Linked DNA regions of Homo sapiens. Changing the gene in region 1 together with any one later gene gives a genetic interaction. Each region holds a gene or a part of one and is shown in the gene's direction. Other genes may lie near its edges.

What was found. A genetic interaction does not mean that the proteins touch.
Region 2: changes in ZNHIT6 (region 1) and PRIM2 together harm fitness less than expected from each alone (positive genetic interaction), as found in Homo sapiens cells (one large-scale study listed by BioGRID).

Annotation. Positions count from the first base shown.
Region 1 is NC_000001.11:85,649,434-85,652,933, reverse strand, and holds part of ZNHIT6 (box C/D snoRNA protein 1), read left to right. Parts: 3' UTR 1-3,500. UniProt on the Homo sapiens protein: Required for box C/D snoRNAs accumulation involved in snoRNA processing, snoRNA transport to the nucleolus and ribosome biogenesis.
Region 2 is NC_000006.12:57,530,630-57,534,129, forward strand, and holds part of PRIM2 (DNA primase large subunit), read left to right. Parts: intron 1-1,781; coding exon 1,782-1,854; intron 1,855-3,500. UniProt on the Homo sapiens protein: Regulatory subunit of the DNA primase complex and component of the DNA polymerase alpha complex (also known as the alpha DNA polymerase-primase complex) which play an essential role in the initiation of DNA synthesis.

The DNA of each region.
Region 1 (3,500 bases):
ACGTTATGGCAGCTCTGTATACAGTTTGATCTCATGTACTGAAAAAAAATTCTTAATTTTATTGGAGTTTATACCACTGTGAAACTGCAATATGACTGTAAGAGAGTAAAAAGATTGTTACATCTATATTGTATGTGTGTACTTAATGGTTAAAAAGCAATGATAAAACTGGACATTAATGAAATTGATTTTTAGTTACAGTTGGAATAAGTTTTTTACCAAAAAGAAACCAGAGACGTTAGTTAAGGAGACTTAAAAAGATCTGAAATATGAAAAGAGAATGAGAAGATGAGCAGAAGATAAATTTGTGGGACACAAGTATAACTTGGGGTAGAAACTGGAGAAGAGAATCGAAAAACAATAATGCCAGAAGGACCCTTGGTATGAAAGTACTAATGGAATGTGATTCATAGAAAGTTCATAGAAAGTGAGTCCTTGCAACTTGAGAAACATACATACATATATATTTATAATCTCTAAAGCAACATCAGGAATCTTCTAATATATGATAAAGAATTTGTGTAGAATTACGTTGTTCACAGTATTATTGGAGAGACAAATAAGATTTCAAGGAATTCATTTATAATCAAAAGTGAAATGTGTCTTCTTGAAACCAGCAAGAAATAGATGAATTGAGTGAAACGTGTTGTTATTAGGAGAAGTGGGATAACGTATACAAAAAGAACTTGCGATCTGAATATGATCTGAATATGAGGGTGGATAGGAATTTTTTGACAGTGAAATCTGTTATGATGTAGTCTCATTTCCAAGAAAAGTCTTGAGTTCCATCCCCCCTTCTGAATTTAAATTGAAACCTGGACAGAAAACAAACTATCCTGTAGTTTCCACTGCTCAGGAGGAAAAAAAGAAATCTATATTATCTAATGCATCTTTGCCATCTTTATTTTCTAGAATTCTATTAGACTTTTCAATTATAGGCTATTAGGAAAGAATATAACTCTTAGAATTCCCCTAAATATAATTATCAACTCATTTGATTAATATGCATATTTTTTCCCGTAAGATTTACAATACACGTGTGTTTTAGTGAATTACCAATGGCTTGGAGAGAATGAAATTGGAATAACTAACTGAAAACCCTAGATGTTTGTAGCATTGAGACCCAATATCTTTTTGGAGGCCCTCTCCATGTTAGCTTATTGTCAAATTCTGGTGTGTAAACAAACTCCTTGACCCATGTTAAGTTCAGCATCCTGCATTTTGTTCATGAATCACATTTTAAAAGGAGAAAAGCTCCACCTGGTTTTCTTTATTTTTTTAAACAGTGATTTCAAAGAGAAGATAGGCCTTTCATAATTGCTAATTATACATATAGGATTAATAGTCATAAATTATAGTAAATAAAACTTGTACCTATTCCTTTTATAAATATGAATTGGCTAGGCACAGTGGCTCACAGCTGTAATCCCAGCACTTTGGGAGGCTGAGGCGGGCAGATCACAAGGTCAGGTGTTTGAGACTAGCCTGGCCAACATGGCAAAACCCTGTGTCTACTAAAAATACAAAAATTAGCCAGGCGTGGTGGCAGGCACCTGTAATTCCAGCTACTCAGGAAGCTGGGGCACGAGAATCACTTGAACCCTGGTGGCAGAGTTTGCAGTGAGCTGAGATTGTTCCACTGCATTCCTGGGCACTGCCTGGGTGACAGAATGAGACTCTGCCTCAAAAAAAAAAAAAGTTATTAAAAATAGATATTTAAGATTCCAAAATGTAGTTGATCCAGTTTGTTTCCCTGTAGCAAGTAGTGGGATTTGGGTTTCATGACATATAATTAAAATGTTAATCACATAACTATAATGCCAACAATTTTCTTTATACATTTTTGTTTAATTATGTTGACATATACTTTGTGTTGTACCTTATTTCATGTTACTAAATTTTACATAAAGATGCTGGTCTATTTTTATTTAATCATATACTGTTATGGTTTGAATATAGTTTGTTCCTACCAAAACTCATGTTGAAATTAGATTCCCCATGTGCTAGTGTTGGGAGGCAGAGCCTAATGGAAGGTGTTTGGGTCATGGGGGCAGATAGATCCCACATGAATAAACTAATGCCCTCCTACTGGGGTGAGTGAGTTCTCATTCTTGCTGTCGTGGGAATGGATTAGTTCTCACAAGCAAGGGTTACTAAAGAGTCTGGCTTTCTTGATTTTCTCCTTTTTGCCTCCTGCCTTCCCATGTGATCTCTTTGCACATACCTACTCCCCTTTCACTTTGTACCAAGAGTGGAAGCAACATGAGACCCTCACCAGATACAGCTGCCCAATCTTGAGCCTTCCAGCCACCAGAATCATGAGCCAAATAAAACTCTTTTTAAAAATAAGTTACCCAGTCTTAGATATTCTATTATAGCGACACAAAATGGACTAAGCTGTACTCTGTTGCATTAAAATGTGTTGTTTATATGCAAGTGACAAAAACTCAAAATAGTGTCAGCATGAAGGGCAGTTCATTGGCTTATATACAGGGAAGTCCAGGCAATGACTGGGTCCTGGGTCCAAACGTCAAAAGCAGTCATCTTGCCATCCTACACACTTGGCTCTGATTATTTTCTTCTTTATGGATTGGTTTTCTTTTCAGATTTTCCCTTTGGGGATATTCTGTATGGGATGAGGAACAGTGAGGTGAGAGGATGGTGGATAACAGCAATTGACATTTTCAGCTTACCTTAGCATAACAAGGCTGAAAGCTTTTATAAAGCAAGCTATGTAAAATTTTGGAGAAGTACTTTTATTTTGCCCAGATTGGATCACATTCCGTTCCTGAGCTAATCAAGAGAGGAATTCACCCAAAGGAGGGGGAAATTTTTAGAAGAAAGCCAGAATGTAGGGAGCAGGTGAGGAAAGGTAGTTACTGGGAATACGAAAGTAACACATTCATTGCACCCTGTTTGAATTTGAGTAGCAAGAAGTTTCTGATTTGTACTAACAGAAGGAGTAAAGTTCAGATTTAATCTGCAAGTCTTGATTGTTTTTAACTAGAGATTTTAATCTCTTCTTCTTATTATTGCTGCTTTGAGTTGCCATTATAGGTTTTTGGATTTTTTTTTTAATGCCATCCATTTTTATTTGACATCATGTTGTTGCTAGTTTGAGCAGATGCACATAGCATATGTTTCCATTACCAATTTGGAAATTTTTCCCAGTGGCATCAGCATTTGAGAGATACTGATTTTGAAATTAGAGTACTAGGGGAAAATGCTTCAAAAATGAAGACTACTTAAATAAAAATTGGCTTTAAATAAACCTTTGGGGATCTGTACTTGACTAAAAAGTATTTTCTTTAAACTTTGGTCTTTGAAAACTAAAGTGTGTGTGCATGTGTTCATTAAAATGACCTATAACATGAACATTTTCCATACTGGAGTGTGATGTACTGTACTCATTTTGAACTTTAGAACCAAATGCATCCTTTAGCATTTGATGAGCTGCTATATAATTCTATTTCCAGTTTTATTTTCTTGCCAAATAAAGT
Region 2 (3,500 bases), on another chromosome or scaffold:
CTCATCCTGCTCTCAGAGTAATTCTCAGGTCCTTCTTAGCCTGTAGGAGGAGGACTTGCAGGGAGGGGAAATCTGTACCTTTTTTTTTTTCTTTTTTTTGATACAAGGTCTTACTCTGTCACCCAGGGTGGAGCATGATCTCAGCTCACTGCATCCTACACCTCCTGGGCTCAAGCCATCCTACTGCTTCAGCCTCCTGAGTAGCTGGTACTACAGGCACACACCACCATGCCTGGCCAATTTTTGTATTTTTTGTAGAGACAAGGTTTTGTCATGTTGCTTAGGCTAGTCTTGAACTTCTGGGCTCAAGCCATCTGCCTGCCTCAGCCTCCCAAAGTGCTGGGATGACAGGTGTGAGCCAGCTATATTGTGGTTTTGCTTCATAATCCATACCCATTGTTTAATCAGTAAAATTGATTGATTATGGAAACAACAGCCTGTCTACAGAGCATCTTGAGCGTATATGTGGTTCAGCAGGTAGAATCTGTAACTGAGCAGATAGAAAGTAGTATCTGGATTTTTTGTTTGTTTGTTTGTTTTTTTGAGACAGTCTCGCTCTATAGCCTAGGCTCGAATGCTCAGGCATGATCATGGCTCACTACAGCCTTGATCTCCCTGGCTCAAGCAATCCTCTTACCTCAGCCTCCAGAGTAGCTAGGACTACAGGCATGCCACCATGCCCAGGTTTTTGTTTTTGTTTTAATTTTTATTATTTGTAGAGACAGAGTCTTACTCTGTTGCCCAGGTGGAATTCTTTATGATCATAATGACTCTTCACTCCAGGGTTTCCCTTTAGTTGTGGTATTTGTATAATCTTTGGTTTGATTGTGAATTTCTATGTAATCTAGCAGCTGTTTTTTGCTATGTCACACCTGCATGCACCTGAGTCTGTGTTCATGGAGTTGGGCATGAGTAGTGTGTTGTGTGAAGGAGGTCAAACATTACTGAGGTGGGTGGCTTAAGGTAGTATATACCAAGTTATGTTTCCTAATTTGAAGATAATCATGCAGGAAAATTTATTATAGGGAAGAGGATGATATGGTGCGGTGAAAAAATGGGGAATTAGGAATCAAAAGGTTTGAGTTCCCACTGCACTGCTGACTTGCTTTCTGATCCTAACAAGTTTCTAACTCCTCCAAGCCTCCATTCATCAGATGATATACAGAAACGCTCTTTCAGGGGGTTGCAAGGATCTAATTAGAGGCTATTGAAGACTCTTTGTACACTGTAAAATGCTATTCAGATATTATTTATTTTAATAAACAGTGATTGCTTTATGTCAGGCTCTTTAACAAAAATTCTTACAATTCAGACCTCCTATCAACACTGCAAAGCAGGCATTATTATCGCCATTAGTCAATAAGGCACCTGGCATACAGAGAGTAACTAAGTAACTTGCTCACCTACTACTTTTAAGTGATGATTCCCAATTTAAGTTCCAGCTGCTTTTTTGCTATGTTGTCGTGCTGTTAATAAAGGATAAATGGTAGAGGTTTGAACTTTAACAACAACTTGGATTATGCTTCTAAAAAAATGGAAGTGGTGCTCTAGACTAGGAGTCAGGAGGTTCAGACTGTTACTATATTTTTCTATTATTTTGGGGTAAGTTACTTAAATTAATTTCATTAAATACGTTTAAAACACTTGGCTATGTTTCTGCTAAGGTTTACATGTAAAATGCTTTCTTATTTTAATCATTTTCAGAATTTAAAAAATTTCCTTCGAAGGGATCAAAAGTATTTTATGAATCTGTTTTAATATTTTTTTTTCTTTTTTTAAAGTCATTCCTACACTGGCCAAGATTACAGTACCCAGGGAAATGTTGGGAAGATTTCTTTAGATCAGATTGATTTGGTAAGTAGAACATTATTTTAAACTTAGAACTTTATCAATGGAGGGAACATAGATTTTCTTAAATCAAAGACTTTTGGGTGAGGAGATAGAATATTATTTCACTGCTTGCTGATTAATTTTAAAGAAAATCCCATGTCCCACTTAGATGATTTTAAAAAAAATCATAAGAAAATCATTTAATCAGAAAATTATCTGTACTTTTATGAAAACAGAATTTAATCAACTATTCCAAACAGGAATTCTTTTAAATAGCTAAATGGAGTTTGTGTTTACATTTAAATAGTGTATACATTTAATAAAGGGGAAATGGAAAACACTAAGTGTATTAGTTTGTTAGGGTTGTCATGACAACGGAAATTTATTTTCTCACAGTCTAGAGGCTCGAAATCCAAGATCAAAGGGATAGTAGGTTTGATTTCTTCCAGGGCCTTTCTTGTCTCACAGATAGCTGCCTTCTCCTTGTGTTCTCCTGTGGTTTTCCCACTGCTTGCATACATCCCTGGTGTCTCTTCTTTTTGTAAGGACACTGAGTATGTGAGACCAGGGCCCCACCCCCATGGCCTCCTTTAATCTTAATGAGTTCTTTAAAGGCCCCATCTCTAAATATAGTCACATTTGGAGCTACTAGAGGTCAGGACTTGATATATGAATTTCAGGGGGAGAGGACAATTCATCATCCAGTGTAGGCTACGAGATTAATAGATAGCTTATTTTAGCATCATTTGACTTTGTGGTTCCATAGGGTAGCGTACTTTGCCATACTTGTAGAATTTCTCTTTAATACATAACAGCATTTGCACTCCATACACAAAGGGAAAATAAGCCAGCCATAAATAATCTTGGGTTAGACAACTACCAAATTATTCACAATAAATTAAAAATACACAGGGATTTTAATGCTTGGAAACAAGAACTGTAATAAGACTAGTAGAGAAAGAACGTGAGTTTGGATCAGAATGAATAGGTCGTCTTCCATTTGAAAAATTATAAAAAAGTACTTGCAGTTAATATGTCTAGAAATAACAGTAGGGTTGCCTACTTTACACAGTTGATTTGTTGATTTGAAATTTGTTCTCAAAGATGTCCCATCTTTTAATTTTTTTATTAAACACTTATCTCTAACAGTCCACTTTCTCACTTCCACTCATGTGATTTGTGCTTATATAATGTGAATGGTTGGAGGTTAATTCTGTTCTTAGTTCTAGCTAGATGTTTCCCTATTCACAAGCAAATGTGAATTTCATTGGATACTGTTGGAGTTCATAGAAATATTAATTCATTTAATGGATATGTATTGAGCCCATCAGTTATGTAGCAGCCATTGTGCTGTGGATACAGAAGTGAGGAAAACAGAAAATGTCCCTGCCTTCATGGACCTTACATGAGGGAGAGGGACAACATAATAAATAATAAATGAGCAATATAATGTTAAGTGCTATGATGATGATCCTGTCATGGGTCTGTGCCTGAGACCCCGTGGTGAGTAATACAGATGTATCTTTTTCTGGACTGCCTCCTAACTCTGTATCTATATTGTTTGATCTTCACAACAGCATGTCATTTGCATATCCCTTGGTATTTGCAACTCTTCTCCAAATGTTTTCTTTAGTTTTTTCTTCTAACAAATCTGGCTTTCTCAATGCTGT